Linked DNA regions of Homo sapiens: region 1 is linked to region 2. The links come from fine-mapping of genetic effects on gene expression. A gene starts in region 2. The other region holds a variant in brackets. All regions are shown on one strand. Distances are between the middles of the regions.

What was found. PIP is the estimated chance that this variant, and not a neighbour inherited with it, causes the effect.
Region 1: its variant is fine-mapped to the expression of CEACAM4 in whole blood (INTERVAL, PIP above 0.99).

What each region holds. Positions count from the first base shown.
Region 1 is chr19:41,598,266-41,603,641 of GRCh38, forward strand. LOC105372404 (a long non-coding RNA gene) reads left to right here and starts at 2,792. Exons shown (of 3, transcript XR_935971.3): 1 at 2,792-4,287. It also overlaps the pseudogene CEACAMP3. The variant A/C (reference allele first, on the strand shown) is at 3,172.
Region 2 is chr19:41,623,972-41,629,347 of GRCh38, forward strand. It overlaps CEACAM4 (CEA cell adhesion molecule 4), which reads right to left and starts at 3,103. Exons shown (of 7, transcript NM_001817.4): 1 at 2,929-3,103; 2 at 1,630-1,989. The coding sequence starts at 2,992.

The DNA of each region.
Region 1 (5,376 bases), 26 kb before region 2:
GAAGTCAGGTGTTTGAGACCAGCCTGGCCAACATGGCGAAACCCCATCTCTACTAAAAAAGTACAAAAATTAGCTGGGCGTGGCGGCAGGCGCCTGTAATCCCAGCTACTCGGGAGGCTGAGGTAGGAGAATCGTTTGAACCCAGAAGGCGGAGGCTGCAGTGAGCTGAGATCGTGCCACTGCACTCCAGCCTGGGAGACAGAGCCAGACTCCATCTCAAAAAAGAAAAACTATTATATATACATTTATATATATAATTTATTATATAAAAATGTATTGTATATAAATTTATATTAAATACAATTTAATATGATGATTAAAAGTTATATGTTTATTTTAATACATGTTAGAAGAAAATTTAAGCATATCTCAAACCTGTAATTTTATGGATAATATTGCATAGGACAAAGATGTTTTGTCTCAAATTCCCGTCCTCAAGCAATCCACCCACCTCAACCTCTCAAGCAGCTGAGATCACAGACGTGAGCCCCTGCACCCTACTAGGACAAGGATGTTTTGTAAAGTAAATTTATTTAGGAAAAAGCATAAAGCAAATAATAATAACAGTGGTACAAGCTGTAGAGAAAAATCATAAAATGTCTACAAATGTCTGAGGTTTGCATTTTAGTTACTCCTAGGAAATTAGGGTCACATAGCACTGCAGAAAAAAACAACTGAAAATCGTAGACCTGGGCTTTAGCTCTAGATTTGTCCATTTCTAGGACCCCACTCCCTGGACATCTCTGTGACCTCCCTGCTGGGAGTAAATCCAACCTTCCCAGACATTAGAAAACATGAGGAAAACCTTGCATACCCAGAGGGGTTTCTGTGTCATAGAGAAAATAACACTGAGTTTGGGGGTCCCAGGGACTCTCTGTGAGGTGCTGACAGAGCCAATCCCTAGACACAGCAGAGGTCACTTATGGGGAGCACAGGTCATCCTGTTAAGGGATGGGGGTCCCAATAAGCCTTGCTTCTCACAGCGTGGTCTAAGGAACTGAAATGTAGATTGGAGAAAAAGAGGAAAAGAAGACAAGGAGGCAGGACTGAGAGGGGAGGAGGCGGAAAGGCTACCTGTGCAGATCCTCATTGCCACTTACCTTTCCCCGCCCCCACCCCTGGCCCTGGGAAGTGCTTCTGCCCTGGGAGGAGGCTTAGCACAGAGAGAGGAAGGACAGCAGAGCTGACAGTCACAGTAGCTCTGACAAGAGCATTTAATTTATATTAAATACAATTTAATATAACTATTAAAAGTTATATGTTTATTTTAATGCATGTTAGAAGAAAATTTAAGCATATCTCAAACCTGTAATTTTATGGATAATATTGCATAGGACAAAGATGTTGGCATCTGTGACCTTTCGACACATCCCCATTATTTCTCAGCCTGTTCCTTACTTTCTGGCCTCCTTATTTTCTGAAGCCCAAGCTCCTCTCCACAGAGGAGGACAAAGCAGACAGCAGAGCCCATGGGGCCTCCCTCAGCCCCTCCTCACAGAGTGCACATCCCTGGCAGGCGCTTCTGCTCACAGGTGAGGGGAGGGCTCCCTGGGAGTGGATGGGAGGAGGGAGCACAGAGACTGGCTGGGGTTTCTTGGAGAGAACGGGGACCTGAGAGGGACAGAGGGCTTCTGTTGGACACTAAACAGGAAGAAGGGATTACAACAGGAAAATCTAAATAATCTGAGGTTGTTAGTGAAGAAACAATCTCGATTGTTAATGTTTTCCAAGTGAATCATCACTGAGCAGTTAATGTTGAAAACAGATGACAATAATCACAATTTAAGTTGGGGTAATACTCAAGAAAAAAAACAAGGGACACTAAACAGAGCTCTGTGGCAGCACTCCTCATATAGGGGCACCAGCTGTGGGGGACGGGTGAATAGTGTACACTGACACACACATATTTTGCTTTGCCAGTCCAGCTGAGTCTGTCAGGGCCGCTTACAGACTCCCTGCTGAGTCCTATAAACAGTTGTGACCATGGCCTTGATCAGCTAGTGAGACTCATATTTATTCAGTAAGATTAATTAACAAAGGCTTGAGTCAACACCGTTAGAGGGTAATTGACATTGTGGACTTCCCAAGTAGAAAGCAATTAAGCACCTGTGGCACATCAATGGTTAGTCTTAAGATCACATGAGTAAACAAGCTGGCTAGACAAACTACTCTGCCTTCCTTTGTTACTACTTTAATTTGTTTAACTAAAGGTAAAGGGACCACCTTCAGTCAGATCTATTACCAAAGTTATGCAAAGTTTTTGGTCTTCCAAGAAGATTTGTGTCTATCTCTATAACTATCTCTAATATTTTTCCCACCAGCCTGATTGAACTCCAACAGAGCTCTTAGCCAACAACCTCAGCCATTGGAAAATAAATCCCACGTTGTGAAGGGCCCTGGGAACACTCATGAGCTCATCCACAGGAGTCCGCAGCCTGTCCCAGGCACTGGGGTGCAACCAAGATCACACAAGTCCCTGTTCTCACAGAGCTCATGCTCTCATAGGGAGGAAGACAGACATGCAAGGGTATCTAGAATGTGAGGTCAAGTATTGACAAGAGCCCTGGAGGGAACACAGCAGCGAAATGTCAGAAAGGGAAGACCCAGGGTCTCTAGAGGTGTCAGGGAAGGGGTCTCCCAAGGATGCCCTAATGTGAGCAGGACCTGAAGGCAGTAGGGAGGGAGCCAGGCAGACCCCTGGGGAAAAGGACTCCAAACAGGGAAATGCCAAGGTCAGAGGCACTGAAGGAAGGGAGGTCATGCTGCTGACCTTGGCCCAGTAGGACACGCACGCGCGCGCGCGCGCGCACACACACACACACACACACACACACACACACACACACACTCCAAGGCTGAGGGATGAAGAGACCTGTCCAGGACCTAGGGCCCCATCTTTCCACCTCAATGCATAGGGCCCAGTATTAACTGATGCTCTCTCCCCACTCCTAGCCTCACTTTTAACTTTCTGGAACTTGCCTACCACTGCCCAAGTCACTGTTGAAGCTGCAGAAGGCAAGGAGATTCTTCCACTCACCCACAATCTGCCTTAGGCTTGGCTACAACTGGTACAAAGGGGAATTACAGGATATGTACTAGGAACTCAAGTAATTACCCCAGGACCTGCCACAGAGGCTGAGAGACAATATACCCCAATACATGTCTGCTGAT[A/C]CAGAATGTCACCAACAATGACACAGGATCCTACACCCTACAAGTCATAAAAACAGATCTTGTGAATGAAGAAGTAACTGGCCAGTTTCACGTACACAGTGATGTCTCATGAGCTCTGGGTGTTGGGGGTCAGTTCTGCTTCACACACACAGGATTTTCAGGCCTGGGCTGTGCCTGTGTCCCCCTCTACATTACATCCCATTTGGGGGTTTGGACATTTAGTGCAAGACACACACAGGGGAGACAAACTTCCACAGATCAGAATTTCTTTCCTGCATCCAGACCCTGCAGGCACTTGCTACAGAGGAAGGACAGTCTGATGGGGTTGGGGGGAGGCTCAGTAAGGGGAGGTCAGTGTCAGTTCCCCCTCCTGGGTCCCCTCCCCATGGACGTTCCTTGTAGGACCATGTCAGATCCTGGAGTGAGGGGACCCCTGGGAAGCCCCTGTTCAGAAACTCAGCCCTGGAAACCCCTGTCCAGTCCCCTGTCCCAGGATCCTGACTCCATGTGACCCTGGGAAGCCTGTGCCGGGGCTGGGTTGAGGCATCTTGGGCAGGGCTGACTGGGAACAAGGATTTACCAGCTGTCCAAGGGCCATGGCTCTTGCAGCTGGTAGCCAGCCAGGGCTCAGCCCCCAGAGCCTCATCTGGGCAAGGGCAAAGCCTCGTCCTTCACATGAGACTTGGTATGGAGAAGACAGGTAAGCTCCCTAGGACATTAGCCGACTGCCCTGGGGAACTTAGGAGACTCCAAGGGAAGGTCAGCATCCCCAGGGGAGGAATAGAGAAGAGAGGATGTTCCCAGCAGCTCATTGTCCACCAGAGATCAGGCCCAGGGAACACTCTGTTGGAGGCAAATAATCAGAGACGGTGTATTCAGGCGGTTCCTTGGTACCAACCTTTAGGTCAGGTGATCGTGAATATTTTAAAAGTAATTCACAGACAACATGGCAAGCCACTGACCATTTATCATTGTTGGCAGAAAAATCGGAGATCTGTACGTTTGGAAAGGAGACTTTATTTCATATATTTTTCATTTTATTTTTCTATTTTTATTTTTTTTTAGAGACCGGTTCTTGCTCTGTCTCCCAGGTTTGAGTGAAGTGGCTACTCACAGGTGGGACCATAATTCACTGCAGCCTCAATCCCCCGAGCTCAAGCACTCCTCACACCTCAGTCTCGAGTAGCTGGAACTATAGGCATGCACCACTGCACCCAGATAGTTTTTAAAACAAACTTTTATCTTAGGTTCAAAGATACGCATGCAGGTTTGTTATATATGTAATCAGGGGTTTGGTATACAGATTATTTCATGATCCAAGTACTAAGCATAATAGCCAATAGGTATTTTTTCTGATCCTCACTCTCCTCCCTAAAATTTTTTTAAGAGACAGGATCTTGCTATGCTGCCCAGGCTAGTCTCTGGCTCCTGAGCTCAAACTATTCTACCACTTCAACCTCCCAAACCACTGGGATTACAGGTGTGAGCCACTGCACCCAACCAGGTTATTTCTTACACAGGGTTACAGCCTGCAGGCTGGCCATTCCCCAGGGTAGAAGATGCAGCCTCCAGCAGAGACCAATAGCAGGCACTTCAAGGGAGGGGAATGTGGAAGATAGATTTATGCTGAATGAGTTGGCCAGGTATACATATTCAACAGGTTATAGGTGGAGCTATGGATACTCACAAAGGAAGTACACGCACATGCGTGATCAACAAACATGCATGCTACATGCACCCCATGTTCACTTTGGGGTGGAGAATTCAGATTTAAATGTATTAAGTTAGGTCTTATACATCAAAAGATGAAACAAGCATTATGGTACTCAGTGCACCGTGTCTGTATACCAGCAGAACCAGGCCATGCTCAGTGGTCTCTTATTAGGAGAAAGTTACTGAAATCAGTCTCCTGTCCAATTGAAGTGTAGTTGTGGCTGTTGGAACAGGGGTCAGTTAGCCAGTGTTGGTGGATGAGCCGCGATCATTTCAATATTGCTTATCTCGAAGGCTAGTGTTACTTTAGCCGCTAGAGAGAAAGAAAATTCTGTGTTAGAACATAGCTTATTCTTTAAATGTAGGAAAGTGTGGCTTAGCCCTTGCCTGCATGACCTTAGGTTGAGTTTATAATTTGGTATCTTATGGCCACAGAGAGTCTGTTCTGTCAGTCTCATGATCTCGATTTTAGCGTTAATGCTAGTCAGTTGT
Region 2 (5,376 bases):
GATGAGACTCAGCTCCCAGGGGCAGATTTAGGAGAAACGGGCCAGATGAATGAGACATGGGTCTTAGGCTCTAGAGGGACAGAAAACAGGTGTGGCCAGAACCTCCTAGGATCTTGTATCCACATCTCTGTCTCTGAAGAGGTTATAGATCATTCCTACATTCAATCCCTCCCTCCTTCATAAGAGAACTACAGAGTGTGTGTCTCACGTTGGGCCCAGAACCTCCTAGGATCTTGTATCCAGGTCTCTGTCTCTGAAGAGGTTATAGATCATTCCTTCATTCATTCCCTCCCTCCTTCATGAGAGAACTACGGAGTATGTGTCTCACACTGGGCCCTGGCTGGTGCAGGGTGTGAATGGGGAGAGAAAGCAAAGTCCTCCCCTTTATCCTCCTGTTGGAATGATACCCACACATCAGAAAACACACGAAACCATTTCATGTCCAGAGATGCGGGGTGTGGACCTGAGCGAGGAGGCCTGAACTTCCCCAGCACTGACTGATTGTTGAGGCAGGTGATTTAGTTAAGAAAAAACTGATTAATTCTGTATTTACTCATAACTCTCCAGACCAGAATCTCCCCCTCCGAGCTGTAGACACCTAAGAAGAAAACATCCGAACCAGTGGCTGTTCTGAGGTCCACAGACACCTAGTAAGGCACCAGGGATGAAGGAGAGGACGTGGCAGCAGCTGCAGACAGCCCTCATGTGACTCTGCCAGCTGCGATCTGCCCACCGTGGCCGGTGTCTGTATCTCTCTGTGCCTCAGTTTCCCCTCCATACAATATGTAAATGGAAAATGGTCTGAGGCTTGCCACTTTGTCTGTGAATGAACTTTAAATTATTCACAGGATCTGACATGAAGCTTGGCACAGAGGAGGTGTTCACATCAACAGCATCTGTTATTTGCCTCCATGGGAGAGCACCCCTGGGCATGATCCCCGGTGGACAAGAAGCTGCCAGGAACATTTTCTCCCCTCTGTTCCTACCCCTGGGCCACTGACTGCCCAAGGGCATCTCTTAAGCTCCTCATTCAGGGGGCCAATGCCCTAGTAATCCTGTCCCCCTGCCCTCTCCAGGCTGAGTCCCAGGGAAAGTGGTAGGCTCTGTCCTTGTCTAGATGAGACTCTGGGAGCTGAGCCCTCACTGATGAGAAGCTTCAGGAACCACAGCCCGCAGACATCTGGTAAATCCTTGCTCCCAGTAAGCCCTGCCCAGGAGACCACACCCCAGCCCTGACACAGGCTTCCCGGGGTCACACGGAGTCAGGAGTCCTGAGGCTGGGCTTTTGTGAGGTTCCCAGGACGCCCTCAGGCCAGGCCCTGACCCAGTTCTCCAGGGTCTTTCTCAGGGTCAGGTTCATGGGGAGGGCATGGGGTGCTTGGCTGAGACTGACCTCCCCCTGCTGAGGCCCCCCCGCCCCCGCCATCAGTGTCTGCAGGGCCTGGATGCAGGAAAGGAATTCTGATCTGTTGAAGTTTACCTACCATGTGTGTGTCCTGCACTAAATGCCCAAATCTCAACACGGGACAAAATGCAGAGGGGGATGCAGGCACAGCCCAGGCCTGACAATCTCATGTGTGTGAAGCAGAACTGACCGCCAGCACCCAGAGGTATGGGGGAATCACTCACGGTGTACGTGGAGCTGGCCAGTTGCTTGGTCAGAGTCGTAACTGGCATTTATGGTTCGTAGGGTGTAGGATCCTGCGTCCTCCAGGGTGATGTTTTGGAACAGCAGGGATCCATTGGGGTATACTGTCTCTCGACCACTGTATGCGGCCCCTGGGATATTTGCTTGAATGTCTGTTATATAACCAGCAATGAGAGGGCTCCCTTCTGCCGTTTTCCCCTTGTGCCAATAATAGGCTTGAATAGTTTCTGAAATATTGCAGGCCAGTAGAAGAACATCCTTTCCCTCTGCAGCACTGGACGGCAGGGCTTCAATAGTGAACTGGACAGTGGTGGGCGGGTGCCAGAAGGTTAAAAGTGAGGCTAGGAGGTGAAGACAGCATCAGTCAATACTGGGACCTATGGAGTGGGATGGAAAGATAAGGCCCTGGGTCCTCAGCAGGTCTCCTCATCCCTCAGCCTTGGAGTGTGTGTGTGTGTGTGTGTGTGTGTGTGTGTGTGTGTGTGTGTGTGTGTGTGTGTGTGTGTCCCTGGGTCAGCAGCATGACCCCCATTCCTTCAACAGCTTGGACCTTGGCATTTCCCTGGTGGAATCTTCTTCCCCAGGGGTCTGCACGGCTCCCTCCCCACTGCCCTCAGATCCTGCTCACATCAGGGTGTTTTTGGGAGACCCCTCCCCTGACACCTCCTCTAGAGACCCTGGGTCTTCCCTTTCTGACCTTTCCCAGCTCTGTTCCCTCCAGGGCTCTTGTCAGCACCTGACCTCACATTCTAGATCTCTTTAGGTGTTTGTCTTCCTCCCCATGAGAGCGTGAGCTCTGTGAGGGCGGGGACTTGTGTGATCTTGGTTGCACCCCAGTGCCTGGCACAGGCTGCAGACTCCTGTAGATGAGTTCATGAGCATTCTCAGGGCCTCCAAGTCCTGAGGTTTATTTCCCAGTGTCTGAGGTTGTTGGCTAAGAGCAGTGTTTTATGCCCTGGTTATGTTTTTATTTGAAGTGTCATCTGGTATAGTTATTATCATTTTTCAAAATGTAGTGGCCAGTGATGATTAACCAGGACGAGAGAACACTTGAGATTTTCCTGCCTTTTACCAATTCCAGTTCACTGAGATTTTCCTGTTGTGACCCCTGCCCCTCTCTGATGTTCTCTCCCTTATCCAGCCTCCAACAGAGGCCCTCAGTCCCCTCTCAGAGCCCCAGGAGACCCCAGCCAGAAGCCCTCTATCCCCTCCTACCCAAGAGACCCCAGTCAGTCTCTGTGCTCCCTCTTCCCACCACTCCCAGAGAGTCCTCCCCTCACCTGTGATCAGGAGCCCCTGCCAGGGCCTGTGCCCTCCACGGGGAGCGGCTGAGGGGGGGCCCATGGTCTCTGCTGCCTGCTTGTCCTCTGTGGAGAGGAGCTGGGCTCCAGGAACGCTCTTGTCAGAGCTGCTGTGACTGTCGGCTGTCGGGGCTGCTGACCTTCCTCCTTCTGTGCTGAGCCTCCTCCCGGGCAGAAGCACTTCCCAGGGCCAGGGGCAGAGGCGGGGCTCTTCCCAGGTCACCCCTCTGCCCCTCCCCTCTCATTTCTGCCTTTTTTGTCCCTCCTTCCCCTTTCTCTTCTGTGTACATTACAGTTTCCTAACCACACTTTGAGAAGCAGGGTTGGTGGAGTCCCCTGTCCCCAGAGAGGGTGACTTGTCACCCCTGCACTGACCCTTTGGGAATGTCACCACAAACAGAGGTACTCTGGGGTCTCCCAAACTTGGGGAACTGTTTCCTTTTGTGACACAGAGACCCAGCTGGGCCCCCAGGTCTCCTCATGCTCCCCAATACTCAGGGAGTGTGAGATGATACCCAGCAGGAAGGTGACAGAGGTGGCTCTGTGGGATAGAAAATGGGGGGCGACTACGGGGGGGACCAGTCCTCTCTCTCCAGTGTCACCAGCCTTGCCTCTGACCCAGGGACAGAGATCCAGGCCTGGGGGTCTCAGGAGGATCCCCAGCTCCTGGATGTGGAGGGAGGTGTCCTGCATGTCCTGGGAAGAGAGGACTGTGGTGGAGGGAGGTGGGTGGCTCTGGGTTCTGCTGTCCTTGAGGAGGGATTCAGGGAGATCCTCCCTCTCCGTTTCTGTTGGCTGAGCTGTGGCTTAGGGCCTGTGCATGTTCTCCCTTACCATCCCGGGTGGCCTCTGTCCTCTGTGAAGGTGATTGTCCTGTTGTCACTGTACCTTCCCCATGCATGATACCAGGAGAAAGTGGAGAACTGAGCAGAGAATCCTGGCAGAGCAGGATCCTCAGAGGCTCCAGGAAGGATCAGGAGAGACAGAGCAGGCACATGGGAGGGACTGGAAGGGCCTGCTGGAGCAAAGTATGGAAACCAGGCTTCACCTCCACCTCCTTAGCAAAGCCAGATTCCTGTCCAGGGGAATCCATTTCCTGTGTTGTCTGCGTGCAATGTTGCCCCTGGAGAGCAAGAGGAACCCTGTGGTAAAAGTCAGGGGCTTCCCCAGGGATGCTGACCAGGGTCCACGTGGTATGAGTTGGCCCTGGCCCCTGGGCAGAGGTGGGCTCTGACCTCCAGACTGCAGGGTCAGGTCATCCTTGGTCCTGTTCACTGTGGGTCCCCAGGATGTCCAACTCCATGCAGTGCAGGATGAGCTCAGGGAGAGGACGAGAGTTGTCCAGAGCACTCCTGGTCCTGATTTGGGAGAACTGTCCTGCAGGCGGATGGGCTGCCTCAGAAAGAGCCATCCGTCCCCAAGGTTTCAAAAGAAGGGCCCAGGGAGGTGTCTCTGGGGGTTTAGAGAGAGGGCACTGGCCTGGGAGGTGGTCCTCGGTGTGTTCTGTGTTCCTCCATCACAACACTGGGAGTTCCGCCTCCAGGTCATCTGTGTCCCTGTCTGTCACCTGCCCCAGGCCTCTCCACAGGGCCCAGGAGCTGGGGCAGCTCCTACCTGCAGGCTGCAAGGGATACCTGGTTCCTGTATTAGAGCAGGGGAGGCCCCGTGACCCTCAGTCCCTCTGAGATGGAAACAAAGGCAGATCCTGGGTTATCCTGTCCCCTCCTGCAGGAGAAGTTCCCCTGGATCCCCTGGTGAAATGTCTGCAGGGACCATAGGCAGATGTCCCAAATACTGGGGATCTCGAGGCTGGGGAATCACTCCCTGACTTTCTTGTGGTCATTCTGCCCTGGTGGAAGATCCACCTGGGATCGAATATCCGGAGTTTGTGTCAGTTTTGGTGTGTTTGTGAGAAAGACATATGTTAGAGCCTGGAGGGAATGTCAGTGAATGATGTCAGGGAATGAATTGGGTTTGCCCCTCACTGTTAGAAAGACCCTGAATTCCCTCCCGATGCTACTAGGGTAAAAGCCATGTTCTTATGCTCATTTCTCTAAGGAAATGCAAATAGAGTTTATTAAGGCGTTTCTGGCCAACTAAGGTGGATTTTGTCATGTAGACACAATATAGACCATAATACATGTACATATGCAAAAACACACCTAAACACATATCCACAAACAAATAAAAATCTTACAGCTTTCATTTTAGAATTTTAGTGATGAGATAGTAATACAAACTCACTAGTTGATTAAAGTCAACTGGATCCAATTGTATTTCTGACAAATTGGAATCGTTAACATGGATAAACTTTATTTGCCCCTATAGGTAATATAATGAAGGCTGGGGGAAATATTTTGGGTAAAGCAGTTTCTAATGGCAGTGTAACTTATAAACAAATAAACAAATGAAACCTCTACAGTTTCA